3 separate regions of the Homo sapiens genome follow, and regions 1 and 2 are each linked to region 3. The links come from fine-mapping of genetic effects on gene expression. Tissue or cell type: thyroid. Region 3 holds a variant in brackets; each other region holds the start of a gene. All regions are shown on one strand. Distances are from middle to middle.

Region 1 (9,954 bases), 28 kb after region 3:
GTGGACTCTGGGACACCCTTTGTGTCCCTGCATGTCTGGGGCTCTGAGGTTTCACCTGGGAACCCCTGGCAAGGCTGGTCCCTGTCCCCGTGTCCTGCCTCCTGGATGACCAGGGCCTCCTTGCCCCTTGTGGCTTGTCACCAGCCTGCGTTCTGTCAGGCAGCAGTACACAGCCCCCCTCTCTGGGGACCCCCCCCTCCATCTTGCCCACCTCACAGACCTACCCTGCCCCCAGGACACCCAGCATAATCTCCTTAAAGGACCTGGGTGACTGCAGGTAGCAGATAGGTGTCCTGCGGGCAGTGCTGGCCCCCAGAGACCAGCTCTCTGCTCAAACAGGGAAGGCAGAAATCGCAGGGAGAGCAAAGAGGGGTTGGGTATTTGAATCCTGTGTCGTCGGCCCTGGAACCCCACACAGGCTTCTCACCTCCAGCCTCTGCCTCCCCCTGCAGTTCAAGTGCTACGGATGCAATAGCTCAGCGACTGGCAGCGCAGCACGTACCTGCTGTCGTGGGAGGTGAGAGCCACCAGTGCCCGACAGCGGCTGCAAGGCAGTGGTGGCGCTCTGCAGCCAGCCGGCCCACCCCTCCAACATCTGCAAGGGGGTGGTAAGTGCCCCAGCGCAAGCTGGGGACAAGGAAAGGGCCCCAGCCTGGCCTCCAGGAGCCCCCAAAGGGCTGGGGTCAGGCAGATGGGTGTGGGAATAGCAGAGCACACATGATTCTTGGCCATGAGCCCACAGTGCCAGGCCCCTCAGACGCTCTACAAAGCCCTGGGACAAGCAGCTCCTGCTGAGAGAGTCCAGGGCACCATGGCATGCTCCTGGGGCCACCCACGAAACCTGTGAGCCACTCAAGGCCAGGTCCAGCCCATGAGTCCTCTGGTCCACCCTCTGCCTCTGCCATATGCACCGGGACGGCCAGCCCTTCCTCCCCACCTGTGCCTGCTTCTGAGCCAAAGCCATGACACCTGCCCTTCCCTTGCAGGGAGGCTGCCTCACCAAGCTACCTGCTACTCATGGGGGCGATGGGCATCAGGGTGGCCTGCCTGGAGGTGAGTTGCAGTTGGGAGATTAGGAGGAAGGTATGTTGCAGTTGGGAGATTAGGAGGAAATACTCACTCGGGATATTAAACTAGGCTCTGAACCCGTCTCCAGCGGCAGATATCTCCAGTAACTGGGCTGGCATGTCCGTGCCCTGCGCTGCTCTCTTCTCTCAGCTTCCCTTTGCAACCAAGGCTGATTCCCACAGTCAGTCTCTCCCCCAGAGAACATGAAGGAAGATGCCTGAGGGACAACATTAACTTGTCAGGAACAGGGGCCTGGGAGGAGTGTGGATGTGGGCTCAGGTACGGGCATGCACCTTGAGTGTGTGCATGTGGGGGTCAGTGTGCAAGCCTGCCGTGGTGTGTGTGGGTCCGTGGGGGTCCCCATGTTCCCGGGTCTATGTGGGTGGGGTGGTATGCACTGTGTGTGTTTAGGGTGCTTGTGCATGTGTGAGTGTGTACATATCTGCATTCATTCCTGTGTGTGTCTGCGTCTGTGTCTGTGTGTGTGTGTCTGTGTCTGTGGGTGTGTGTGTGTGTGTGTGTGGGTGTGTGTGTGTGTGTGTACCATCAGCCCTCCATATCCACAGGTTCTGTATCCTTGGATTCAACCAACCATGGAATAAAAGTACTAACAAAAAGGATGGTTATGTCTGCACTGAACATCCTTGTCATTACCCCCTAAACAATACAGCGTGACAACGATTTACATAGCATGTGGATTGTATTAGGAATTACAAGTAATCTAGAGATGATTTAAAGAATGTGGGAGGATGTGCAGACGTCACATGCAAATACTGCACCATTTTATATCAGGGACTTGAGCATCAGTGGATTTTGGAATCCAGAACAACTGTATATAAGTGCGCGTGTGCGTGTGTGTGCGTGCGCGTGCGTGTGCGTGTGCTTGTGCACACACATTCCCCTGTGTACATCCAGCTCTCTCCCTGAGGATAAGCAATGCCCTTGGCTCCCATTTCTCCCTTCCACCCAGTCCCCCTGCTGCCACCCAGGAAGTCAAGGTCACTCTCTCAGGCTGCTGTAGTCAAGGGTCCAAGGGAGGGGAGCCAGGAAGGAATCCTCAGAGGTGAGAGCCCCCGCAAGTGTAGGCTGTCCTTCTAGAAGGGGCCCAGCAGTCCTGCTGTCCTACCCAGCCCTTCCCCGTCCAGTGCTATGAGCACCGTCTAGGGAAGAGGAAGAGTAGTGCTTAGGCCTCAGAAGACCTGAGTCCAGTCCTGGCTTTGCTCCTGTGTGACCTCGAGCTACTTAACTTCCCTATCCCTCAACCCTTCATCTGCAAAATGTGAATAATTTCTTCAACCTCCTAAGGTCTAAATAAGAATAAGGTGATGCCTGTGACCCACTTACAGCACATGGCACAAATGAAAGCCTCCGTAAGCCTTTATCCAGCTGTCCGCAGACTTCAGAGGATTTCCGATACTTCCTCTCACTGGGTCCATACAACAACCTGAGACCCAGGCCAGACAACGAGTAGCGTTCTCACTTTACAGATCAGAAAGTTGAGACCCAGAGAGGCAACTTGCCCAGGGTCTCACCCCCTGAAATGGCGCCCCGATCTCCTGATATTGGCCCTTCGCTTTCGCAAACTCCCTACCCCGACTCAGAGGTCTGTGGGAAAGAGAAGCAAGGGATGGTGGCCTTGGCTGGCTTGGAGAGACTCCCAGCATAGGGTCCTTTCAGATGATGGTGCCAGCTACCCACATGGTCTGTGGGCCTGGAGGGTCCAGCTACAGCCTAACATGCTGGGAGGAGGGTCTCTAGCCTTTGGAGGGACACTCACCTTGGTTCTGCCACCTGCAAGTTGTGTGACCTAGGGCCATTTATTTCATCTCTGAGCCTCAGTCACTGATTTGTGAAATGGGGCTGACCGGACCTCATCTGGTAGCTGGTGATGGGAATTAGCAACACCCATGGAAGTGTCTGGCTCACTGCTGAGCAGATAGCAGGTGCTCAACATGTGACACCATCATTTGTATTCTCTCTGCAAGGGCACACTGTCTCTCAAAAAAAAAAAAAAAAAAAAAAAAGCCCCAGTTTCTCCCTGGCCAGACCAGCCTGCTCCCCTTCATCCTCACTCACCTGCAGGGCCAGGGAGCCCAGGTGGCGTTAGCATTGCCGCTCTTTTGCACCTCCCCAGGGCAGGTCTTCTGTCCCATGTGCTGAACCCCAGAGGAGTCACCACTGGGAACTGGGGCAGGGCTGCTCTGTGCCACTGCACCAGGCTCAGCTGAGGTTTCCAGAAATCTGTGACTCCCCGTGCAGAGGGGGCCTGCTCTGTATGGACTCCGACCAAGCCTGGCCCACTCTGTCTATTTCTTCCTGACCTCTCCAGCCCCGAGAGCACATAGAAGCTGCCAGATGAGGGCAGTGAGGCCGAGGGCCGGCAGTAGGGCTGCAGATGCCCTGAGCCCTAAGGTCAAGGTGGATGGAACTGCTGTGTAAGTCTGATGCCGAGGAGACCAGGTCGTTGGGCTTTCAGGTGAGTGGACGCTTTCTCCCCACTCACAACCCCCACCATGCAGTCTCTGCTCCTCCATGGTCACTGTGGAATGGCTCCTGATGGCGCTCAACCCCTTGCCCTGTTTTCTCCCCTGCGGTCCACTGAGCCAGCCCTGCGGCCGCCAAGTCTCAGGTTAGAGCTCCCTCTCGCGGCCGATGCTGGGCACTACATTGCCCAAGACCCAGGTGGGCCGAAGTCTTGAGAAAGGGCTCGCAGTCATCGTCGCCAGCAGGCAGACACCAGGCACCTACCTCCCCGACATACCCAGCCTGGTACCTCGAAGACCAGTAGCCTTGAGCTACACTTGGGATTCCCAATACAGTTTCAAAACCGTCTAGCTCATCTTTCAGGAACCTTCCAGGGTTCACATTCTGATTTTTCAGTAAGGTTCTCACCTCTGTGACCAATTACCTTGAGACTGATGTCCTGCACCATCCTGGAGTGTTGGGATCTGCAGGTCGTGAAAAGGGAAACCAAGCAATCACTTTGGAATGACTTCCTGGAACTTCCCTGGCCCCTCCTTCGTGTTCTCTGATGACAGCCAGGAGCTGACTCAGAAACCTCATAAGAAGCTGAAGGCATGACGACTTCCCTGTTAAAAAAAAAATGTCCCACGTGTGGCCGAGTGCCACACCCAGGCAGCTGCCGAAAAAAAGCACCAGACACCATGCAGCTGGGCCCCAGGGCCCGGCCCAACCCGGTTGGCCTTCTCCGGCACCTGCAGGGAACTTGTCCTGTCTTGTCTCTGCTCGCCCCCTGCTGGCTGCCTGGAGCCATTCCGTGCTGGTTTCTTCGCGTCTTCTGTCAGGAGAGAGATGCTGATGCTTACTCAGGGATCCGGCGGGTCAGTATCCTGTGCCCTCTGCACGATTCAGGGTGGGGGTGTGCGCGTGTGTGTGTGCATGTGGACCCACATTGATGAGTCTGGCCCATACACCTCCACCCTTATTGGACCTCTCCTGGGAGCACCCTGGGAACACACATCTCATGCAGAAGTGTGTCTCTTGAGAGCCTAGCTCCTCCTGTCCTCCCCCAGCATCAGATGTACACTGTACGAGACGTGAATTTTGCTTACAGCACAAATCTGTGCTGGCCTAACAGCTCCCTTCTGGCCTCCCCCTTAGCATGGATCAGAAAGATCCAGAAAGTGCACAGGAAAATCATCAACCCATGAGGTGGGGACAGGGGAAGAGGGCATGCCGCATAACACCTACGTGGGTGGAGGGGCTGTGACAGCCACTTGCTTAAGCTGGTGGGACATGAAATAACCTCCTAAGCCACATTTCAGCTGTGACCCTGAGGCCCCGAGGTGGATTAACAGAGCCCTCAGCACCGAGTCTCCAAGCTGAAGGCAGTGGTCACACTCCCTGCTGCCCTCCAGGTTTGGAGGGATGGAGAGGAGAGAGGAGGGGAAGAAGCTACCTTCTTCACTAGCCTTGCTGAGAGACAAGTGGGTACGGCCCACAGGCACCTCCACCAGCCTGCCCTCTACATCCAGATTCGCAAGGTCAGGGCGGCAGCAGCAGCTGGAAACATTGGGGAAAGTCGGGGTGTTGTTTCTATACTTAGGGGAATCTACTGTCACCCCAGGTGGCACGGGACATTCACGGGGCTGCTCTAGCCCAGTGCCCCTCTCCTGCAGACAGAGTCGAGACCTGACAACAGGTCATCATCATTATCAGGATCATGATGACATTATCCCAGTGCATCCTTGAGTGGGAGGGAGGAGAGGAAGAAGAAGGTGGCGGGGGGCAGGGGGTGTCCATGAAGAGCAAGGTGGGAGAATAAAGGTCCTCTGTGTTTTAGAAATGGGAAGTGAGACGGGGCGGACAGCGACCTTCCCAAGCCTGCGCGTGCTTTGGGTAGGATGCTCCAGCCCCTTCCTGTTCGGCCCCTGGTTGCCGACAGAGGGGCTGGCAGGCGGGACTCCTGCGGCTGGGCTTGGCGCTGCCTTCTGTGCTCACTGTCAGAGCTGATGACAGCTCTAGGGGCTCCTCCCAGAGTCTCCGTTTCCCCCATGGCTCTTGCACATGGCAGAGCATCCATAACGGACCTGAGTTTTGTTCCGGAGTCTGAGGGCAGCAAAATACAGGCCGTTTCCCAGAGAAGAAGGCGGCTTCAGACAGCTCTGATGAGGGAGCAGAAATACTCACTCGGGATCTCATTAAACTAGGCCATTTCTGGAGAAGCCCTAGGACCACAGACCCACAGCATCGACGGGGAGCTTGTTAGGAACGAAGACCCTTAGGCCCCCACCCAGGCCTGCAAACTTGTAATAAGGGGGTCCCCGGGTGGTTTATGTCCATTAAAGTGTGTGACACCCTGCTCTTGGACAGTAGTTCTTGGAGTGCGGCTCCCCCACTTTCACGGGCATCACCTGGGAGCTTGTTAGAAGTGTGGAACCGCAGGCCCCACCCCAACCTAAGCGGGAAGCTGCCCTTTCTCCAGGCCCCAGGGGACTCACATGTGCACTGGGCATGAGCAGCACTGCTCCAGAGCCCTGATGGCTGACAGCCTCAGGGAGTTCTGATCTCTCTTTGCTCCTTTGCCCTCTCCACCTGCAGGATGGGTCTCATCTGCTGCTTGCACCGAGGCTCCAGCGACATTTTTACTCATGGTCAACTGCGTCCCCTGCCAACTGCCCTTCGAAGGACAGGCGCCACATCCACCTGCCAGGCCTGCAGCATTAGCACCAGCTCCACTAGGGCCACAGATGCCCCCTCCTCTGTGTCCAGCCCCTGCAAATGCACCAAGTGCCTTAGACCATGGCTCCCCACCTAGGCGGGGACCCTCAGCCCCCTCCCCTCCATTTCTGAGCCCTCACAGCCAGAGCCTTGGCAGGAGAAGGACCCTCACCAGGCACGGGGGTGCCGGGGACCACAGGAGGGTGATATTTGGGCCCTCTGCTCCCTCCCAGCTCCCAAACCTGGGACAAGGCTGAAAACCCGGGTCCCCTGGGATGCCTGCATTCTGGGCAGGATCCCCACCAGTGCTCAGAAGCCCTCGCTTTGCTGTCCCCTCTGGGAAATGCATGGGGTGGGACAGGTAGGAGTGGCTCTTCCCCTAGATGACCTAGCTAGCCCTTCAACCTGCCTACTCCCCACACTGCCTCACCTGGAAAGCCGTGTCCTGCTGGCCTCACTCCTTCCTGCAGGGCCTGGAGGTGGGGAGGCCAGAGGCAGGGCAGTCACAGGCTGGGTGGAGCTGCCAGGGCAGGGATGTGGGGTATGCTGGCCACACTAGCACATGCTGCACCAGGAGCAGAGCCCTGCACCCTGCCTAGTGGCTTTCCCAAGAGAAACCCCTCTGGGAGACCCTGGCTCCAAGCCCCGGCCTCTATAGTAATATGCCCCTCGGGGATCTCCTGGTCTGGGGCCTGATTCTCAGGAATGCCAGTGGGTTTTTTGTTTTTGTTTTTGAGGCAGGGTCTTGCTCTGTCATCCAGGCTGGAGGGTAGTGGCGTGACCAGGGCTCACTGCAGCCTTGACCTCCCAGGCTCAAGCGATCCTCCCAGCTCAGCCTGCTGACCAGCTGGGATGATAGGCAGGCACCACCACACCTGGCTAATTTTTTAAACTTTTTGTAGAGATGGGGTCTCCCTATGTTGCCCAGGCTGGCCTCAAATTCCTGGGCTCAAGCCATCCTCCCACCCTGGCCTCCTATAGTACTGGGGTTACAGATGTGAGCCACTTCGCCCAGCTGAGGCATGCCTGGTTTCAAAACTATCTTCAGCTCTTAATGTTGGTGGGTGTAAAACTCATCCCAGCGTGGACTAAATCACAGGCCCTGCAGAGTTGGAGGGCTGAGAAGGGGCAGCTCTGAATACAGGGGATCTGCCCGAACCTCACTTTTCCTGGGGCCCCTCTCCCCAACCCTGGGGCCACCACCGTGTTGCTTCCAGAGGGTCTCGCTCTCCTTCCCTTTTTCCGCCCGTCCCAGGCTGGATAGAGTCCCTTCCTTTGGTCCTGTCTTGCATCTGTCTTGAATTAGGCAGGGAGTTTTCAGGAAGAACTTTCCCAAATACTAAGGGAGAACAGAGAGGAAATCCTATGAAATACAGAGTATTCATGCTGGCAGTCTCATGAAGGGTAGGTATCAACTTTTGCGACAACCATAGGTACCCCCCTAAATGGCTATTACAAGTGGGCACCTTGAGCATAACACGGGAACCCCACGCCTGGCCTCCATACCTCCCAGGTCCTGCACTTCTCCCCAGAGGTGGGCCCTCTTCCCCCTAAAGCACAGCGCCTTGTGATGCGAAGGCCGAGGCTGGGAGAGGTCACACCTGGTCTCTCCACATGTTCCAGCTCCCAGCCTGCTGAGCACAGCCCTTGCTGACCTGGGCTGGCCCTGAGGAGGGGTGTGCTTGCTCCCGTACACAGGAGTGACCTGAAGGCCCCTCACTGTGGTCACAAACACAGCCCTAAACTGTCCAGAAACTGTATCCTCAGAGCGGGAAGTGCCCACGTGGACAGAGAGAAAGCCAGCCTCTCGGGGCAGATTGCCGCCTCTACTGTGAGGATTCTCCAGGGGCTACCGAGAGGCTGGGCTGGTTTATCTCCTCTGCCTAGAAAGGCCTGGGGTGGCCAATGTGAACTCATTAAAAGGAAAACCAGCTTTCCCAGAAATGACTGCTCCACGGCCAAGAGAAACAGTGTGACGTGATTATCCTTGCTGCCCTCCAAGCTGGGCTTCGTGCAGATCATCGAAAACTGATCGTGACTCCCCAGAGCTCTGAAGTGCTGCATATCAACTGACAAGACCTACAGACTGAGGGCTGAGAAAGAGGGAGCGTGCTGGGCCAGGGTCTTGTTCTTCCTGGTGGGGCACCAAGAGAGGCAGCAGTGGGTAGGAGGGCTATGGTTTGACCTGTCTGCCCTGGCAGGGATGGGAGACAAAGGTGGCAGCCCAGGAGAGCCTGCCCCGTCGGCCCCAGCCCCATGTGTTGGGTTGGGCCAGCCTGACTGGAGGCAGGATTAGCTGTGATTCCTGCACTGGCGGTTGTCCAGCCCAGATTTCCGTTGGGGAGATTGGCTGGTCCAAGCTGCAGAAAGTGGTAGGACAGCCCAGAGCTTCTTGGAAATACGACCTCCATGTCCAGGCCAGCAGCCTGGGAGATGAGACAGGGTTGGAGGAAACAGAGGCCCAAGACAGGGCAGGTTCTGCCTAGGAATGCACAATGGCTGGAGTCCAGAGCCCAGGATGCAGCCCCAGCTGGGTGTAGCCCTCCTGCTGCCCAGGGTGGAGATGGATGCCCAGGGCAGGTCCTCCCGGGCCCCTGCTTGGAGGCCAGCAGTCTTGAGTTCCTTGGAGAGAGAGGACATGCCTGTGGAAAGTCATCACCAGTCCTGTATAGGGCAAAAGCCTCCTGCCCACCAGGGCCTGGGCAGAGAAGCAACAGGTACTGGGATCCCACACAGCTCAGGCCAGCACGTCCACACCCTGCACACGCCATGCCACCATTCCCCAAGGGGCGGACACCAAGACAGAAGGGTACGTCCGTCCCTGTGTCCCCCGCATGACGAGTGTTGGTGGGAGGCAGGGAGTGGACAGGGATGGAACCTGGCCTTGGGGGAGGGGATGAAGTGTGTGTGCCCATTCCTCTCTTTCCCCCGCCACACTCCCCGACAGTCTAGCCTCAACCCCGGGAGCCCTCCAGGCAGGGCCACCTGCGGGGTGTCTGGCGAATGCCTTGTACTTACTGAGGGCCTGCTGTGCACTTAGAACGTGCTACTTGCCGTCAGTACATTCGCTTGCAGTTACTCCAACAAAAAGGTATTTCCCCCATTTTACAGGTGAGGAAATTGAGGCTCAGCAGGGTTAAGAGGCTTGCTGGTCAGCAATAATGGCTGTTGTCTTGCCACCCCAGCCGGGTAGAAAGAAGCAAAGCTGAGCTGGGAGCCCCCTGTCCTCCGCGTCCCATGGTTCTCCATCTCTGTAACAAGTGCTCAGGCTGAGGTTCAGAAACAAAGTGTCCCTCAGGGCACCATCCGATAGCAGCAGCTTCGGCACCCCCTCCCACCAGGTTGAACGGAATCTGGCATCTGGGCCAGGTGCCAGCTGCCCTGCACATGTGCGTGGTGCAGAAGCCTAGCTTATTTCAGGCTGACAGCCGGGCCCCCCTGGAGCAGGGGCTCAGGCAGCAAGCGAGCCTGGCAACAGCCCGGCCCATCGTCTCAGGTGCCAATGCTGGCCCCGCAGTGAGAGCAGGGACTGGCCCTCAGCCCTCGGAGCCTTCACACAGGGTGTGGAATCTCATGCCCGTGTGGAGATCACTGGGGGTTGGAGAAAACCTCAGGTCACGCCCCCTGCCAGAGCCAGCCTGGGCAGGGAGGGGACGCCTGGGGGTGTGTTGACCACCTCCCCCTCAGGCGACACCCCTCTCTGCC
Region 2 (9,954 bases), 40 kb before region 3:
TCCTTGTACTTTTTATTTGCTGTGCTTTCTTGTTGTTTCTTTTCTTTTTTTCCACTCCTTACTTTTGCTGGATTAATCAAGACTTTCGGCGTTCTGGTTCCTTTTCTTTTCTTTTGGCAGTTTAACGTTGATATATCCTATTTGTATTCTTTTAATAGTTACCTTTTTTTCAGCAGAAGAAAGCAAATAATTTCCAATGATATGTGACTGTTGGTTGATAACTATTTTAGTTTGTCCTTTTCTGTTAGTGTTACCTTTAATTTTGACTAACTTTAAGTTACACATATATTTTCTACTTGTGAAAAAACTTAAACATTACAAATGTGGTCAAATTCCTCTTTGAATACATCCCCAATACAAGTCCCTTCTCAAGAGATAATGGCTATATTTAAGTTTAAAATATATTTTCTGACTCTCCTCTCTCTCTTTCTCCCTCTATGTATATATACACACACGCACACACGTATGTAGCATGTATGTGTGAATGTATGTACATATGCACCTATACATATGTATGTGTGTGTTTGCGTCCATCCACCAAAAGAAATATTTTCTGTGGCTCCGTTTCTGAATGTATCCTGAAGAAATAGTTGAATAAGTAGGCAAGTATATATATGAAAGAATGTTTCATAACCACATTGTAAAATATTTTAAAAATTAAAACCATCCTAAATATTCATTAATAGGGGATTGATTAAACAAATCATGGTATATCAAAATATTGCATCAAAAATGATGTAATATATTCTTATATCCATTGACATAAAAAGACGACTAGAATATATTCTCAAACTTTAAAAATTCAAGTTACAAACACACACTGACACACATACACATCATCAAAAGGATATTCACCAACATATAGCAAGACAGTGATTCCTTCCAACAGATAAGATTCCAAATGAGCTTTTACTTTCTTCTTTAATATTTTATACTGATCAAATTTTCTAAAATGAGCACATATACATGTTACACTTTTGAAAATATTTGTAAAAACATTACAAAGGTAAAAACCTTATTCCCTTCTTTCCAAAAAATCTTAAATAAAATCCATGTTCCAGGAAAACTTGTGATGTTTATCCAAAGGCTTCTCTTTCTCCCCAGCAGGTGACCTTGGATCCAGAAGACCTGTCCACTAGTTACAGAAGCAGGTTTTTGAAAACTTCCTGGAGATGAGAGAGGATTAGCAGTATGTGCTGCACGTAGCAGAAATCTCCAGCTGTAAATATTTAAGTGTCATTTCGGGTGTTATTTATATATTTGCTCAGCTGTCTGTACTTATGTTATCTGTATCCTAGATGTGTTTTTCTATGTTTTGCCTTAGCTAATGCTCTCCTGGGAAAGAAACAGTCTGTGAAGTCCTTCGCGTAGAATGCCAAGAGAGCATGACAAGCAGTTGGACATTTGAGCAATGCTTTTGACACTCCTGATGAAGATCAATAATTATTTCAAGCACCAATTAGTGCAACTGATGTTCTTAGTGTCATTGAAAGCATGCCTGAGAACAGCTGGAAACCTCCTATTTCTGGTGTAATATCTTTCTCATGGGAATTACACCTGAGATTGTGAGGTTCAATTCTACAGTCATTTCTCTACCCCAGGTATTGTTGCAAAAATGAGCAGCCTCAGTCATCAAGTTCCTAGTCAAATGCAGATTGAACTGAAGCTAATTCAGCTCATCAACATTTAACCTCTGGTCATTCCTCAGTCCTGCTAGAAGAGAGAAAGGTGCTGACGAGAGGCTTTTTAGCTCTATTTTTCACATGGATGAAGAAACCAAGGCCAGTTTCCATTCTCTAAGACTGTAAAAAGAATCCTAGGAGGAGTTTCTCCCCATTTTTTATTGTATTTTATTGTATTTTACTTTATTTTATTTTATGTATATATTTGGTTTTGGTAAAGACGAGGTCTCCCTGTGTTTCCCCGCCTGGTGTCGAACTCCTGGGCTCAAGCGACTCTCCTGGGCACATGGCTCATGTGTAATCCCAGCGCTTTGGTAAGCCGAGGCAGGAAGACCTCCCCATTTTAAAGATGGGGAAGCGGGCCAAGTCAGACAAGCTGTCTCTGATCTGTATGCTGAGGGCATTGTTTCCTGTCTCCAAGAACGGAGCTGTTTTTCCCAGGAATGGCTCTGTCAAGAGTCTATACACAGAGTACTTTTATTAAGGCCACATCAGGACAGCAGCTTAACCAAGCAGGGATGTCAGGGAGGCAGGAGTAGAGGTTGTCAAGGGAAATTTTGTTATCTTGCAACTCTTCTAGGCAGTGGCCAGAAATTGTTTTGAAAGACAGGCTTATGCCCAGGGGACGGAGAAATCCAAGTGTTACAGCTCCTGACCTTGAGGGTTTATGTACAACCTGAACACTAAGCTAATGTGCCATGTATCCTGGGGATGCCAACAATAACAGGTCAGGCTCCTCCATGCCATGCACGTGTGTGTGTGTGTGTGTGTGTGTGTGTGTGTGTGGTAACCATCCTCAAAACAAAGCCACAATTACCATGGTATTTTCTGTGACTCCACTTCTAGGGATGGTTATAGATACTGCTGCTGCATGGTAAGGCTATCAGGCCCTGTGCTGGCATGCAGGAGGTCTCACAAGATCTATCCTGAACCTCCAAGTAGCAAGAGATGTAGGCCATTTCAGATAAAAGCAAGGATGCCTAAGTATTATTATTTTTACATTTCTAAAGGAGTATCTAGAACGTCCCTCACTCCTGCATCCCATGACAGATCTCTCCCATCAGATATAAAGGCAGGCAAATGGTACCAGACTGTGGACTGAATGCAGAAGCTGCTGGCACCCAGCTAGGGACAGCAGATGAGCTACAGGCCTGGCTGAGAGGCACCCGTCTCCAAATCTGGGATTTCCCTGGTCCCTCCTATTTTTCCAAATAAGGAACTACTCTCCCAGTTTGCAGATGCAGAAAATGAGGCCTAGATATAGCAGCTGCGTCCACCTGTTTGTGACGCAGCCAGTGCCCAGAGCTCAACGGAAACTACTAAGATGAGAGTTTGTGCAAGAAAGAGTTGCCCCGTGCATTATCACAGCGCACTCTCGGTTCGCTCTTTGGGGCACCCAACCTGACAAATAAACCTCGTTCCTCTTATGAACATAGAACAAAAATCAAAACGGGATACTTCCAACTCATATCTCATCTCCTTCATACCATTTCTAGTCCAAGCCAAAGCCCCATTTCCCTATTCATAGATGGACTCTCAGACTTCTCCCTCGTCTTCTTCAAGTGAGTTTTGTGAAATGAGATGGAACAGATGAGGATCTTTTTAGTGGTACAGCACTGGGGGCAGGCAAGCCCATTCCTTCACAGAAAATCAGGACAAAATAAAAGCCAAAATCCAAAAGTCTCAGAATTCCAATTCTAGACCTGTGTGGTCCGATCTAGTAGCCACTAGCCACATGTGGGGCCACTGAACACTGGAGAGGTGCTCCATGCAACTGAAGAGCGGGGTTTTTTATTTCATTTCATTTTAATTAACTTAAAGACTGATCATTTTATTCTGTTATTAGAAAGCATAGGTATATATGGGGCAATTTAGGTTTGTAAATGAGCTTCTTCAACCATCAATGTTATGAAATCTAAGTACAGATCGGGTATTTCCAAAGAAAATTTAGTGTCTGAACTTAGATGTGCAATACAGGTAAAATACACACCAGAGTTGGAAGACTTAGAAGGAAAAAAATGTACGGCTCATTATTAATTTTGTATATTGACACATCAATTTTAATGATATATTTTATTTAAAACATATCTAAAATATATTGTGTTAAATAAAATACATCATTGAAATTACTTTCACCTATTTCTCTTTTTTTTTACGTGTGTAAACATGATTCCTGGGAAATTGTTAATTGCATATTCTATTTTTGTTGGTTCACTACCCCAGACGTCTGACGTTCCCAGGGATGGTGCTGCAGAGGGAATATCCTGGTCCAGAGCTCCATTCATCCCTCGCCCTCTCATGTTGCTAAAAGGTCCCTCTAGACCATTTTCCAACTTTCTCTTTCTTCAGTACTGTTTTAATATTACTAACTTCAGGGAATATCAGCTTCCCTTCACCTTTATCTCACCGACAGCGTTGCTCTCCTCTGCCTCCTGGCTTTCGAAGATCCATCTTCTGCTACGAAAAACCCTCGTCTTCACTCCCCATTCTCAATGTTTTCCTTTAACACCACCTTCTCCGGCTTTTTCTGACAATTCCTATCTCTTGAAACAGCTTCCTTGGAGGTGGAGGGGAGAGGCATCAAATCACACGCCTACTCCTTCCTGCCTGTCTCCCACCATCACCCCTTCTTGCTCCTGCTGAGTGGTTCCCACCTCTGTTCTTCCCTCCATCCCACCTTTTCTCTGTTTCACTCACCCTTTCTCGGTGCCGCAGGATCTCAGGTTGGATTTCTAGGATACAGACTCTGCATGGAGATGGAGATCAGCCTGCAAGGGGTCTACTGGGGGCCTGACCAGCTCATGCTCCCCAGACCCGGCAGGCCTCCCTGTGGCGTTCACTCTGGCAGCAGGCCCGAATGGCTAGGTTGTCTCAAGCCACCTGTGCCCAGGTTGCTGAGCTGTTCCAGGCATTCCAGGAGGTCTACGGGGAGGCGGGGGGGCTTACCCCCATAGACCTCACTCACCTTGAGAGAGTGAGGAAAACAGGATTAGGCAGAGACTGAACTTGAACTGCGTTGCTTTCCACAGAGGCCTCGTCAGATCCCTCTGGAAGCTGTGGCTCTGGGGAGGCCCTTCGGAGTCCCCGTGAAGGAAATCAAAGAAATGAACCTTTGTGTCCCTGGATCAACCAACTGGATCCAGGATCCTGATGCCCCCCAAGGAGTGGCAATCTTGTCTACACAACCCACCACTCAAATAATTCTCTTGAAAGCCCCCAGAGATCTCCTGATTTCCAAATCTAAACCTGTTTTCTTGGGCACCTCCTTCCTGGTGTCTCTGTAGCCCAGGCCCCCACTGAACATCCCTCTTCTCCTGAGTTCTTTCACTCTGCACAGTCCCGACCCTCCCACATTGTTTCTCTCATGGGCTCCTTCCCCTCCTTAGACAGCTTCTGTCTTCAGCCCTGTTCTCTCTATCTTTTCTACCCTCTCGCTCCATTTCTTCTCTTGTCAGCCCAACTTCTTTCCAGATGATTCCAAAAATCGCATCTCTTGCCTCAGCCTCTCTCCTAAGAACCACAGGTCATTCCCACTGCATTTGCTGGATGTGTGCCCCTGGAAGAAGGTGGCCTGCTTCTCAAACCCGGCTTGCCCCACACGAAACTCAACCTCACATCACTCCAGGTCTCCTCCAGACTTCAGGTTTTTACCCCCTCACCCCCAGCACACTCCTCCTCCTGCACCGCGCACAGCAAGCTCTGGGGACTCCTTCGCGGCAGCTTCTGCATTCAGGTCTTCATCTCAGGGGACTGTGGCTGTCATCTCCTTCCCGCATGGCCCTGTGCGAAGCCTTTCCCAGCGGTCAGCTGCGGCATTGAGAGCACTGGTGCTCTGGGGCACAGTGGCGTGCTTCGCGTTCCCTGCCCCCCAGTAGCGGCCTCCCTGACCTAGCAACCTGGTATATGGATAACCCGGCTCGCTGCAGTCAAGTTTCAAAAGAACATGGTTGGATAAGCACAAGGCCACCGTTGCTCTGGGAAATAACCCACAATGCACGCCCCACTGCTAGGACAGACCCACTTAGGGACAGCTTTGCACCTCCACTGGGTGCAGGCAGGGACAGCTGGGCCCTACCGTCTACTCTTTTTGCTCCAGATTAGGAAGAATCTTGATTCTCCCTGAGCCCAGGGAATGCAGGGCCGATGGTCCCCAGGACCCTGAGAGGGACAGGGCAGTGATGGGAGTCGCGGGGCGGAGGATGAGGGGAGGGGAGGAAGGGGGCGTGGGGAAGCTCTATGTCATCAAACCTTGTCCCTAAAGTCCCTGGGAACCCCCAGGAGCCAACCTCTCCCAGGGGCCGACCTAGGCAGGAGACAGAGGGATCTGAGAGGGCGGGTAGGGCGGGGGCTGGGGGCTGCGGAGCGCGGGGAGGTTTGAAAGCCGCTGCGCCGCGGCTCATCAAGTCCATCCCTTCCCGCGCTCCCCGCAGGTTTCCCGCAGACAGTCGCACAGTACCCCTCACTCCACTTAATTCGCTCCGCGTGCTCTGAATCACAGAAAGGCAAACTTGCTAACAAAGAGGCGGCCCGCCCGCGTGCGGGGTTCCCGGGCGCGTCCCGCTGGCCAGGTGAGGACGGCGGGCACTGGGCACCGCAGCGGGGCGCGGGGCGGGCTGGAGGCGCGCGGACACTCCCCCGGCCGGCAAGGAAGGGGCGGGCCGAGGCGCGGGCCGTGTGCCGCTGGGTGGCCCTGCGAGCCGCCGCTCTCCGCCTCTCTAGGCTCAGCTTCCATCACCGCGTGGCGGAGCCCGTGTCCGGGCCAGGTGAGCGCGGGCGGCTGCGGCGGGAGAAGCGCGCCCGCGTGGGGTGGGGCGCCGGGGGCGGGGGAGGGAGGCTGGGGGTCCCGGCAAGGCGCCGCCACCTCCGCCGCCCGCAGTCCCTGATGGACCGTGGCGGGGCCGGCGGGCAGGGGGACGCTGGCTGCGGATAGGGGTGGGGCAGGCATCCCGGGGGAGTCGCGGCGCGTGGGAGCACGCGTTGGTGTGTGCAGGGGCCCGCAGCAGGGGGTCCTTAACCACACGCCTGAGTCCGCCTTCTGCACTTGTGCCTTGGGAAGAGCTCTGGGCCTCTGGGGGCCGTGTGCCCTCCCGGGACATGGCTGTCCCTCTTCAAAATGTCACTCTCTTCGCCCACCCTGAATTCCAGTAGCTGCCTCTTGTGCACAAGCATAGCCGACAGGCTCAAACTCGGCTTAGCTAGATGTGGACAGGTCGTGGCTGCCTGCCCCACGCAACACAGAGTCTGCTAAATGCAGGCACCTGCTGTGTGTGGTGCACGTTGTTCCCAGTGGGTCAGGCTGCCTGTACAGGGAGGTCCTGTGTTCCCTGGGCACGTCTGTGCATTTGTGGCAACATGATTATGCAGGCCCTGTCACCTGTTTGTGTGCCCATCCCTGCACATGCAGCTGGCTGGCTCCTATGAAAGGAGGAGGGTCTGGAGGTTTTGGGGTGTATAGCTTTCCTAGGCGATATGTGCAGTGTTAACGTGTGCATTGGCTGGAAAGTGTGAAAGGGAGGCGGCTCAATTGGGTTCGGCCGGACAGCATCTTAACATAGGTCTCAGCTGCTGTGTGTACAGGAATAGTGTCCCAGGGGTCTGCAGTGTGTGGCAAGTATTCTGAGGTGGGGTTGTGAGAAGAGGCGGCTTCTGAAAAAAGTCCTAAGTGCACTCTGGGGCATCGGGTGTATGCAGGCGGAGGGTGGGGTGGCAGGAGAATGAGGGTGGTATTAGGCCAGGGTGTGTTCGATTTGGGGGCAGCTTGTAGTGGAAAGCAGCAGCTGGAGTCTGGAGACCTGGATTTGAATTGGAACTTAGTGGTTGTCACTGTGTCATTCGCTTTGTTGCCTGGAAAGGTCGTCTGGGGCTCAGTTACTCTGTGTGCAAAATGGGACTGATAATCACTGGCTTATCTCCCAAGGAGGCTGGAAGCTCCCATTGGTCAATGCCTGAAAGTGCTTTGGCAGCAGTAAGGTTCCCAGGGCCAGGGGCACTGCTGGGCCACAGGTGCAGAATTGGTGGTCTGGGGAGTGCTTGGGTGGCCTGGAGCTGTTTGGTTTGTGGATAGTAGGCGAGCCATTTGCAGGCTGCTTCCTGTCATATTCAGCACAGCAGGAGTGTCTGACTCTTGCGTGTAAAATATGTATAGACCTGTGTAGTTTCTTATAGTTCTTGTATGAATGCCTTCTATAGCACAGGAGGAAAACTGGCTTTGCTGTCTTTAAATCGCCCTGGAGCACTTTGCCTTTCCAGAGAGCCATCCTCCAGATGAACCAGTGGGCTTATGCCCACCATCTTGCTTTTACCTTTATGCCAAATGAAGCAGTAAGGAACACCCTCCTGTTTGCAGCCGGAGAGATAGGAGATGAAGAAGCGTTCCCAGCCAAGGTCACAGATCTAGGGTGTCAACTGCAGGCCTCTGTCTTTTGCGGTATAGAGCCTTCAGATCCAGAGCCAGCCCTGGCCCCAGCTGAGGAGGGGAGGGGAGGGGAGGGAAGAGTCACGCCAGACAGCACCAAACAGCAGGACATGGTTTGGTGGTTTATCTGCCCTTGGATGTCACCTGTCACTGATAATTTTTTTTTTTTTTTTGAGATGGAGTGGGATTACAGGCGCCCGCCACCACACCTGGCTACTTTTTGTATTTTTAGTAGAGAAAGAGTTTCACCATGTTGGCCAGGCTGGTCTCTAACTCTTGACCTCGGGCGATCCACCTCCCTCAGCCTTCCAAAGTGCTGGGATTACAGGTGTGAACCATTGCACAGGGCCCACTGAGACATCTTTGTATGTGGTAGCTGTTTAGTAATGTCTGTGAAAGCGAAGAGCCCTGGGTGGAGGATGCTGGAAACCCAAGTCAGGTCCCAGCTGTGCCCCTGCCCGCCATGTCCTGGGGAAGGTTGCTTTGCCTCACTGGGTCTGCTTCCTCATTGGTCCAAAACAGGGCATCTTTCCAGATTGTCATTCTGATCTCAGCTTGTGTTTCACTTCCTCAGAGAGGCCTGTCCTTATCCCCATCTAAAGTGGCCACCTCCTCGTCACGTTCACATCACTTCCGTGATCTGTTTCCTCTGTGGCACGGGCCACCCTTTCTGAACTTCCCTTTGCCACGTCCTACTACAGTGTGAGCTTAATGAAAGCGGAGACTGCGTTTGTCCTGTCACCTGCTGGCTCACCAGCACCTAGACACAGTAGGTGCTCAAGAAATATGGTTGTGTGAATGAGTGAACAAAGAGGTTAACAAGGGGCTGGGGATGATGCATGCCTGTTTTTCAAACTGTGCTCCTAGGAGCTTTGGACGGGGAGAGCAAGCCCCATGGCCCTGGATCCCTCACACCAGCAGCTTGGGGTTCATCTAAGTTACATGCCGGCTTCCAGGTAGGATTTCCTTTGAAGAAAGTGTTCTCCCACTAAAATAAAACTAGAAAGCCATTGCACCAGAAGACTTCAAGGGGTCTTTTCATCTTTTCAGCTCCAAGTTGAAACAGTTGTACGGCACCTGGAAGTAATGCACACTTGGCCTTCTGTGAGGGTCACAGGCAGGATTCACGCACACAGAGTGGTTGTTCCTCGGCTCATTTCGGTTTGGCCATGGCATTGATCCACAGCAATTTTTATGCAACTGATTTAATTTCCTGAATTTTTGGTTGGAGTTAATATGAAAACGATTTTGCATACAATACGGTAGCAAGGGCTATGTGGGAACTCTGATCCATGGGAGAGACAGGCCCTGGACAGGGAAAAAACACAAAACATCTGCAAGGTGGAGAAACCACACATGGATATTTGATAGCTCCTTATTTAAGGTGACTGTGTTTGTCGTCGTCCTCTGTTGGGTATGTTCCCAGGCAGCCTGCCCAGATGTGCCTCATCCCCAGGAGATGCCCACTCAGCATTGTCTTGCTTGAGTAGTTGGCAGTGCAGGGGAGCTCTGCTCTCTGGGCGAGTGCTGAGCCTGCAGGACAGCCACGTGGTGCACCAGCCTTGGCCTGTATTTACAGCAGCCATGCATCCTAGGGTTTCCAAGCTCGTCTCCATGTAAAACATTGTCTCGTGCTGTTTTTTTCTATAAATACACTTGGAAATGGTAGGGCAACTGCTGTGTCCAACACTGTGCCCAGGTTTGGGGCACAGAACCTAGATTACCTCTCCCTTTTCTTCTTTTCTTTTTTTTTTTTTTGACAGAGTCTCACTCTGTCGCCCAGGCTGGAGTGCAGTGGTGTGACCTCGGCTCACTGCAAACTCCACCTCCCGGGTTCACGCCATTCTCCTGCCTCAG
Region 3 (9,954 bases):
GAACTAAGACATTAGGCAAATCACTTAATCTCACTGAGCCTCAGTTTTTTCATATGCTACATGAGAATACCAATACCTGTAAGAATTAGAGGTTACTATTTAGAAAAATAGCACAATTTGTGCCACATACTCAGTGCTTAGCTATTATGCATAACTATTATGATTAGACTGATGGGCATGCCTGGTCTCTTTAATGACTTTCTCTGTCCATAGTGCTGACTTTGAGACTTTTCTGATGGTGACTCATGATATGCATGGAAGCATAAGAAATGCTCACACGAAACATTCAGAAAACTAAACTTACCCTTACGGTATATGATGCTGTGATGGTTAACACTGAGTGTCAACTTGATTGGATTGAAGGATGTGAAGTATTTTTCCTGGGTGCGTCTGTGAGGGTGTTGCCAAAGGAGATTAACATTTGAGTCAGTGGACTGGGGCAGGCAGACCCACCCTCAATGTGGGTGGGCACCGTCTAATCAGCAGCCAACATGGCTAGAATAAAACAGGCAGAAGAACATGGAAGGACTTGACTTGCTGAGTCTTCTGGCCTTCATCTTTCTTCCATGCTGGATGCTTCCTGCCCTCGAACATGAGACTCCAAGTTCTTCAGCTTTTGGACACTTGGACTTACACCAGTAGTTTGCCAGGGGCTTTTGGGCCTTTGGACACAGCCTGAAGTCTGCAATGTCGGCTTCCCTACTTTTGAGGTTTCGGGACTCGGACTGATCCACCACTGGCTTCCTTGCTCCTCAACTTGCAGACGACCTATTGTGGGACTTTACCTTGTGATCCTGTGAGTCGATTCTCCTTAATAAACACCCTTTCATATATACGTAGATTCTATTAGTTCTACCCATCTAGAAAATCCTAATACAGATGCATGCTGATATTTTCTCTACTATTTTAGCTCACTTTTTTTAGTGCAGGTTACAACCCACTAAATTTATTTTATCACCCAAATGGGTCACATTCCAAAGTTTGCAAAACACGAAGCAGGATTCAGGTGGCAATTCTTCCCCGTCACCCTATCTCTGACTCCCACCGCCCCACCCCACCTAGGGTTTCAGTTAAGCCATAATCATTATGGGATGATCCTGCTGAGCAGAGGAGGAACCAAAATGCCACACTTTCATGCCTCTTTCATGGCCCTAAAAAGAAAATGTGGCCCAGGCTTTCCTAGGCGGCCACCTAGAAGATGTGTTTCTTTCCCCTCCCTTTTCCTCCACGGCTCCCTGCAGCTACCATTACCCCTGCAATGTTTTTCTCTAATTTATTATTTTAATTAGCTGCTTGGCTGTGTTCATAATCAAAACTTTTCCAGCCTCCCAGGAGCTCTGCCAGGCAATGGGAAGCACTCCGTGACTGGAGAGGCTGCCTCTGCTCCTGAAGCGGAGACCTTGCTCCTTCCCAGGCCGCCAGGAGGGCTCAGCCTACAGGGAAGCTTGGGAGCCCTTAAAGGAGGCATGGGACCAAGACAGGTGGCAGAGAAGATGGAGGACCGAGCCTGGCAGGGGAATGAGGTGGCTTGGGAGCATCACTTCAGGATCTAGGGAGGCCCTGGTGGGGCCTTCTGCTCACCTCTTTGCCAGAGCTAGAAAGCCCTTCACCTCGGACAGCATCACCCCACTGAACGTGGCCTCTGCCCCCTTCCTGGGCTTGCCATTTGAGGAAAAACAGGTGAGGGACCTCGTAGCTGGTTTCTCTGCTGCACCGCTTCTTGAGATGCTGAATGGCATGGGACTCCCCACGGCTTTCGGGGCACCTCTACCCCTCTTGGCTGTCAGGATCTGCTGGGGGACAGGGCCATGGCTGAGGGGTGTATTAGTCCATTCTCATGCTGCTATGAAGAAATACACAAGACTGGGTTATTTATAAAGGAGAGAGGTTTAACTGACTCATGGTTCAGCATGGCTGGTGAGGCCTCAGGAAACTTACAATCATGGTGGAAGGGGAAGCAAACAAGGTGGCAGGAGAGAGAGAAGTGCCAAGCAAAGGGGGGAAAGCCCCTTACAAAACCATCAGATCTCATGAGAACTCACTCATGAGAACAGCATGGGGGACCCGCCCCCATGATTCAATTACCTCCCACCAGGTCCCACCCACGACATGTGGGGATTATGGGAACTACAATTCAAGATGAGATTTGGGTGGGGACACAGCCAAACCATATCAAGAGGGATGTGCATTTGGTCTGCTCGGGGCCATGGTGAGTGAGACAAGTCAGGATGAAGCTGTGGTCACCCCTCCTAGCTGCCCATCTGCAGCTCAGGGACTCTAGATCTACTGTAGCCCAGGCACCGCACAACTTGCTTCCTGGGCCAAGCAGCTTCGTGTGGGTCAGCAGCCCAATTGGTAAAATGGACACTAAACTGAGCATTAGGATTCTTGAGTTCTAGCTCCATGCTTCCCCTGGCTAGTTGTGTGACTGTGGAAAAGTCACTTTTCTCTGGGCCTTAGTTTCTCCCTCCAGAATATAAAAGGGGTTGAACTCGATTCCCTCCTCCCTTCCTTCCTCCCTCCCTTCCTTTCTTCCTTCTTTCTTCCCTCCCACATGTAGGACTCCATTGGAGACACCAAGATGAATAAGGTTTTATCAAGAGGCTAAAAGAGGACACACAAGGTAGCAAATAAAACAAATAGGCAGTGATGAGTATAATTACAAAAACATGGGCAAGACATGGAGCTGGTACAGAGGACAGAATGGTTTGCTGAGGAGTGGGGAGAGACAGCTCCAAGGAAGGTTTCCCTTGGATACTGAGCTGGGTTTGGAAGGTGATTTTATGTTCCTTTCCAGCTCCACCCCTCGGTATGCCCCATGAGATTCTGCTCTTGTTATAAGGGTAGATGGGATGGGGAAGACAGAGGGGGAAGCAGTGCTCTGATTTATTTTATCAAGTGCTCTTTAAAACCAGAGAACCAAGAAAAGAATGCCTCAAAGTGGAAAATGGCCCTTAGCATGACAAGCCTGTCCTTGAAGATTCAGTCAAACCAAGGCAATGGCAGCATGGACAGAGCCGGGGAGAAGTGCTTGCCTGGTGCTCAGAAAAACGTCACTCACGAGCAGGGTGAGCAGTGGTGCCTGATACATGCCTGCCTATGCCCTCCTGGAGAGCTCAGAGGCTCAGGTGTGGCACTGAGGTGCCATCTACCCTGCAGGTGAGCGCCAGGCTCAGCAGTGCACTATTGGGACTGCAGCCCGGGGTTCAGCTGACTCTTCTGATGTGGGAACGGGGTACCATTCTTTACAAGCAACCGAGCCTTGCTCAGACATGGCCTCCCAGTCCTCTCCTGAGCCCCCAGGCTGTGTTTGCCAGCCCCCCTCCCTGAAATTAGACCCATTCTCCTCTCTTTCTAATGGAAATCACCCTGGTGATTGCTGGGCCTTCCCATCTAGTCACTGGCCTGCGACATGAGGGCAGGTGAAGTGACAGGTGTGGACCCCACTATGGCCTGAGAGCCTGGCGTCCTCATAGCAAGTGCACAGTGGGTGTGGGTTGAAAGAAAGAACGAGAATAGCCAAGCATTGGTCTGGCATGAAGATCCTTTCCAGGGGCTTCTTCCTAATGACCTGGAGGAAAGTCCATTGCCCTCGGGGACTGCTGGCACTTTGCAGACTGCCCCTCCAAAAATAAAAACGGCCATAAAACAGGGAAGGGGGATACTCGTTGTTGCCTCAGGAGCTCAGCAGACAGACGGGTGAGGGGAGCAGATGCCGCTATTTCCAAAGCCCCCTACAAAGCCCCGTTCGTGGAGTCCCATGCTCATGTGGGCGGCTGCCAGGTGCCAGGTGGTTTGCTGGGCCCGGGGTTCTGAGGGGAGTCGGGGGAGTCTCCCACCCCCGGGCCGAGGGCTGCTGTGAGGGGAGCAGTGCCACAGGTGTGCACGAGAGGGACAAGCTCACCTGCCCAGCAGAGTCAGAGCAGGTGCCGCACTGGAGATGGGGCTTCATGGGTGAGTAGGAATTCAGTGGAAAAGGAACGGCAAAGAGAACAATGTGAGCAGGTTGGGAAGGGACAGGAGAGAGCCTCTCAGAGGCCCAGAGTTTGGTAACCTATCCAAATCCACACAGCCGTAAACAGAGGGGCTTGGACTCGGACACCGGTACTTCACCCCAGAGTTCACCCTCTTTACCACTCTACTATTGCTGCCATAGTTAATGGGTATCTACAATGTTTACAAGAAAAGCAACTACTTTGTTCATGGTGATTAAAGCCCAGGTACGGAGGAAGGAAAGTAGCAGAAGATAAAGCCAAAAATAGGTTAAGGCCAGACACGTAAGAGCCCTGAGGCCATGCAAAAGAGTCTGGGCTTGGGGCTCTGGCTGTTGGAGCCTGTGGGGATTGCTCAGCAGGGAGTGCCTTGGGGCACAGCCTGCCAGCCTGCAGGTAGAGCAGGAGCTGGGAGCTGACGGTGGGGAGATGGAGACAGGTTTGAGAGCAGAGGAGAACTGGCTGTCATTGAGCGGAGAGGAAGGAGTCAATAATGACCCTGAGGTGTCTAGTCTGGTCTAGGGTGGGTGGGTGATGGTGCCATTGACCAGACCGACCTGGAAGGAGAGACACGGATGATGTGTGTGGTTCCCAGTGGGGGAACTCCTGTCCAGGCCAAAAACCTTTTCAGTCCAGCGTGATGCTTGGTTCCTAGTAGCAAACATCAAACAAATGAACTATACTGTCAGCCAGTGCATTTCTGCCTCCCATGCCATGGGCTCCCCCACCCAACCCCAGCACCGAAGGTAGAGAACTCCCCTGCCCGGGGGATCCTTCTTTACTGGGCGTCCCATGGTCCTGGCTCCTGCCCCACCCCATCCTCCCCCCAGCTGTCAACACAGAAGCCCTAGCTAGCAGGACAAAGAAAAATCCTACATTTACTGTTACGCCACTGCCTGCTTTCCTTCAAGCCTGCTGCCTTATTTCTATCCAGCCCCAGGCATGTGTGGCAGTTCAAGCTAACGCTTCTCCCCATGATGACGTGGGCCACACTTTGGCAATGTTTCTCTCCTATAAATG[A/G]GAAGTTCCTAAAATTACACGGCATGGGTGACCTGCTCTGCCCTTACTGGTCTGCTCACGTCCTCATTGCCTGACTTCACCCTATGCAGGGTTTGCTGGCTAATCGGCCACAGGCTATGGTTTTGAGAAATGCAGTTAATACTCCACAGAAAACCAACCCAGTTTCTACAAAGAGCCAAATACTGTTGAATCAACTCTACGCCAATGGTTGTTAAAACCGCTCACTGGGGTCAGCGCTCTCCCTGCCCCACCAGTCTTCCACTGCTTTCTGTTGAACTGGGCAGTTTCCAAGTGGTTTGAGTGACAGCCATGAGCCGCTGGTCCAGAAGCATCTTGCTGGTGGTGTCTTGGCAGAACACTGTTGCCCAATACTAACAGGGACAGTTTAACCATGTGGAAGGGACCTCAGAGATATTCCCATCCAGTGCCCCCAATTTGCAGATGAAGAAACTAAGGCTTTGAGAGGCCAACTGTCTGTCCACAGTCACATACCCAGTCAAGGGCACGGCCAGGACTGGCATGCAGACCTGCTGACTTCCGCCCTCCCGTGGCACCCTCTGGTGACCCATTCCAACAGTGAGCAGTTTTCCTTCCCTTGCTCAGAGGAAAGCTTGCTTTCTAAAGAGCTGACCACGTCCCCGGCAGGAGCTTCCCGGAGGACTTGCAGCACTCTGGCTCCTGCAGACCCCTGGCTAAGTATAACCAGGCCCCGTTGACCCAGACTCATCTCCTGATTTCTTCTGGACAGCAATGCATGTGGATTTGTTGTTCTCTAGACCTGAATCAGGGAAATGTGTCCCTCCAGACCCCTTCCAGACCCTGCCCCGTGGCCCAGGATCCGGCGTCACTTTGCAAGCTTTGCAAGATCCCAGCCCCATTTGTGTGGCCTGCAGGTGCCCTGGCAGAGAGCAGGCCTCCGTCGGCCAGATCCACACTGCTCCTCTCCGGGGCTGCATTTCTCATAGCCTCCGACTCCCCTGGGAGCCATGGTTTTTTCCTTTCTTGCATAATCTGATTTTTGCCCCTTTAGATGAAAATTCTGTTCCTCAGGATTACCCCACTTTCTACCTTAAAGCTTCTGCCAAAGCAAACACCCTAACAAACACACGGAAGGAAAGGATGGGGTTCAGGTCCTGAACAAATCTCAGTAGCCCTCCAGGCAACTCCTCCCAGGGGAGGGAACCTGGAGCTTCAAGGGGCCCCTCCTGGGACTGAGCGACCGGGAAGCCGCTGTGTTCTGCGAGGCTCAGCACAGCGTCACCAACTGGGAAGAGGAGGGCAGGACACCTGGACCCCATTCGTTAATTCTGGGCAATGGTTCTCAGCTGGGATCACCCAGGAACTTCATAAAAAATTCATGGCTGGGTCCCACTCCCACAGACACGGATGGGCCTGCAGGGGGGCCTGGGTTTTTCAAAGCTCCCCAGGTGATTGTACAGCCAGGTCTTAGGGCACCATAGGGGTGCAGGAGGCCTACAGACCATAAAGGCCACAGGTCATTAGGTAGTGCAAAATAGACTTCAGCCCCTGGCCCCAAGGGTATTGTTTTGTGTGAATGACCATTTCTCTGGGCAAAGGATGCAAAGCTTTTCATCAGGCTTTCAGTGAGGTTCTGTGTCTCCCAACAGATGGTCCCCAGACCAGTCCAAACATATGTCTTTTGGTGGCCCCAGAGCCATATGCTCAGCCCCCACTCTGGTTTGAGGGACAGGCTTAAGAAGCCTAACAGATCACAGATAATGTGCATATTTCTATAAAGAGGCTATTCTCATGAAAAGCCAAGATTCTTGGCCTTTTGCTGGAGTTAGATCAACTCAGTGTGGTCAAGTTGACTGTCTCATGCTGTTCAGAATCTCTTCCTGGCACTATATGTGCCTTTGATTAATAAAAAATGAGAAGTGAATTATTACTTAATTAATGCACGTTGATAGGCAAAAGCCCTCAAAACATAAAACCCATGGGAAAAAATAATCAAACGGTCCTTGGTAGTTACAGGCTGGGAACTACTGGTCTAATATAACTCACTCCCTTCTTCGAGAGGTGAAGAAACTGAGGTCTGGAGAGGTTCAGGGACTCTCTTTAGGTCACGGAGCTAGTTATACACAGTTGGGACCCGTGCCCAAGCCTTCCAGGCATGCTGTAGAGGGTCAAAAAGAATTCTGTCCAGGATATTTTGCTGGAACCCAGACTCAGGAAATCCCTCACTGGTCATGGAGGTTGTATGGGCCACAGATAACACTCACCCACAGAGAATTTTCAAACCTGTTGTATTCTAGGATTTCACTGAATCTAAGCTATCAGTTGTAAGATACACTGTTGTTTTTTTGTATCACCAAGAAAAAGTACTGCCAAGTGTAATTGTAAGATGCCATCAATCATAAGATGTGCCCCAATTTTAGAGACGTTAAAATGTGAGAAAAAATGGGCATCATGGAATTGAAAAATTATGGTGTGTTAGCCTCTCCCATTCCATTTGCTGCAGCCTGGGTGGTGTCTGGAGGTACCTATGGAGATAAAATGGCACTTTGAAGAAATCATGTCTATTAAAAACGTAGAAGTAAGAGAGAAGCAGGCCCAGCCTACTCTGGGGGATCCAAGGACAGAGGCCTGGATTTGCCCTCAAATAACTGGGTTTGCACCTCAATTCTGACCCTCTGATGGTGTCATCTTGGGCACATTCTTATTCTCTCCAAGCCTCAATTTTCTTATCTGCAAGACAGGGATAGCCTGGCCCCTCCTGCCCGGCCCCATCCTCACAGAGCTGTTGCAAAGCTCAGAAGAGAAAATGGCAAAATGGTAAAATACTTGCGAGTTGAGTAATGTAGGTGCCTGTTCATTGCTAAGAACCACCTTCCATTTACTCAGCCAAGGTCTGCGACTCCCCGGAACAGAGAACTGGGAAGTGACAGGTTAGGTTATACAGAGAGTCTTCCTGGGGCAGACGGGAGACAACTTGCAGGGAAAAGCATCAGGGGATGTGAACAGAGCCCGGGAGGGCTTCTCTAGCTTTGGCTACACCCAAGACCCCTTGAGGAAGCATCTACTGACCATCAGAGGAAATGGACCCGTCCCTAAATGGCGGGCAGAGAGACTGGGAGACAGAAGTCCACCTTCCCAGGAGCAAATGACAGAGATGGTCAGAGGTCCCAGAGGACCCAAATCCTGGGAAAACACTCCAAACAGCCCCCATCTGGCACCTTGAGGACACTTGCACCCACCCACTATGCTCTGCTGAGGATAACAGTCACTAAAAGGCTCCTCAGCTTCATGGCAGGAAAGAACAGTCAAGCCCCACCACCCCAGCTACATTTCCCAGGTACTCTATTTCCAAGAAGGCATCCCCCAGACCTGCAAATCAGCAGTGTCCCGTCCCTGCCCCCTCTCAGGACTGAAAGGGAGTCAGACAGCAAAGAAGGCTCTCCTCCCTCCTCCTGTGGTCCCAGGGAGCTCCAACTTGTCCAGCACAGTGGCCCTTCCATCATGGAGGCAGCGAGACTGAGCAAGCAGGCCCTGGGCTCTGAGTCCTGGTCCTGGCCCTGCCCCTAACTCGGGCCATTTACCTCTCCTCCATGGGCCTCAGTTCCTTCCTCTGTAGAACAGGGAGGGATAAGGGGCCCAGCCGTGCTTCCCCAATGGGCAAATATAAGGATTGAACAAGGGGAGGTGCTCAAAATGGCACCTCCACATCCATCAGGGAAACGTGGACAGAGGGAGGGAGCGCTCTGAGGGGAGGGGAGGCGAAGGGACTCAGGTATATTAGTCATCCCCAAAACTGAAGTCATTTCTCCCCGCCTCATATGCAGTAGGAACCATAGTAAGATGCACAGAATCAGAAGTCAGACCCAGATTCAAAATCTGCAGCTCGCTTACATGTGTGACCTTGGACAAGCCTGCAAACCTCTCTCAGCCTCCGTTTCCTCATCTGTAAAGCTAGGCCACCACACTGTTCTCACAGGCTCTTAGGAGGCCTAAATTGAATAAGACAATGCACGAGAAGTGCCTGGTACCCAGCGGGCACTCAAGGAATGGCAGCTCCTGAGGCCCCCGCCACCCCCTGCTCCAACCTGGTGGTCTCCTGCAGGTCAGGGGGGCAGCTGTCCTGGCCATGGGCATCTGGACCCTGGTGGAGAGGAGCAGCTACCTCAGCATCCTGGCCTCCAGCACCTTCACCGCCTCCGCCTGCATCCTCATCTGAGCGGGTACTCTCGTCATGGTGACCGGCTTCCTGGGCAACAGCACCATCTCCTAGGAGCAGAAGGGCTGCCTCTCCATGCTCTGCAGGGAGGGGGACCCTGCACTACCACCCTATTTCCCAGTGAGGTCCCCAGCAAGGAAGAAGGGCTCCAGTCCTGGAGTGGGAAGCGGCTGAGGCCATGGGGCAGCCAGAGAGGGGGTGGCTGCTCGCCAGCCTGGTGTTCTCCAGGATCTTAGGACACAGGCCAGGAGGCCAGCCTCGGCAGCTGCAGTAGTAGCTCCCTCTCATCTGTCTCTCCTCCTCCCTCTCCTCCTCCTCTGCCCCTTCCTTCTTCTCCCTCCTCTCCTTCCCCTTCTCCCTTCCCTTCTCCTTCCTCTCCTCCTTCTCCCTTTTCCTCTGCCTTCTCTTCCTCCTCCTCCTCCTCCTCCTCTTTTTTCCCCTCGTCCTCCTCTCCCTCTCTTTCATCCTTTCTCTTCCTGTTTCTCTTCCTGCTCCTTCCAGATTTTATCATGGCAATTTTCAAAGATATGCAAAAATTTTAAAAAGTGCTTTAATGAACCTCCATCTTCCCATCACCCAGGGCTCAACAGTTACCACTTCATAGTCCATCTCCATTCGCTGGCCTGCACCCTCCCCTCCATCCCTCCCTCTCCCCACCCCAGGATGGTTTTGAAGCAATCCCAGATATCAAATCATCTGTCAATATGTCAGCATATTTCTGAAAGAGCAATAAACTTTTTAAAACAT

The links.
Region 1: it holds the start of LINC02827, and the variant in region 3 is fine-mapped to the expression of LINC02827 in thyroid (GTEx, PIP 0.96).
Region 2: it holds the start of LINC02417, and the variant in region 3 is fine-mapped to the expression of LINC02417 in thyroid (GTEx, PIP 0.97).

What each region holds. Positions count from the first base shown.
Region 1 is chr12:3,294,436-3,304,389 of GRCh38, reverse strand. LINC02827 (long intergenic non-protein coding RNA 2827) reads right to left here and starts at 4,027. Exons shown (of 5, transcript NR_187483.1): 1 at 3,977-4,027; 2 at 1,121-1,285. It overlaps LOC100128253 (a long non-coding RNA gene), which reads left to right. Exons shown (of 12, transcript NR_148995.1): 6 at 453-608; 7 at 987-1,053; 8 at 3,398-3,544; 9 at 3,676-3,808; 10 at 3,949-4,409; 11 at 4,854-5,072; 12 at 5,739-5,876. RefSeq lists a silencer at 3,333-3,627 and an enhancer at 4,228-4,447.
Region 2 is chr12:3,362,550-3,372,503 of GRCh38, reverse strand. It overlaps LINC02417 (long intergenic non-protein coding RNA 2417), which reads right to left and starts at 4,396. Exons shown (of 3, transcript NR_146865.1): 1 at 4,380-4,396; 2 at 4,079-4,239; 3 at 903-1,219. It overlaps LOC100128253 (a long non-coding RNA gene), which reads left to right and starts at 6,382. Exons shown (of 12, transcript NR_148995.1): 1 at 6,382-6,445. RefSeq lists enhancers at 6,331-6,881, 6,882-7,434.
Region 3 is chr12:3,322,652-3,332,605 of GRCh38, reverse strand. LINC02827 (long intergenic non-protein coding RNA 2827) reads right to left here. Exons shown (of 5, transcript NR_187483.1): 5 at 1-9,257. All of the region lies in intron 1 of LOC100128253 (a long non-coding RNA gene), which reads left to right. It also overlaps the pseudogene LOC100418939. Among named protein-coding and RNA genes, the nearest start is that of LINC02827, 27 kb to the right of the region's middle. RefSeq lists an enhancer at 5,558-6,057. The variant A/G (reference allele first, on the strand shown) is at 5,013.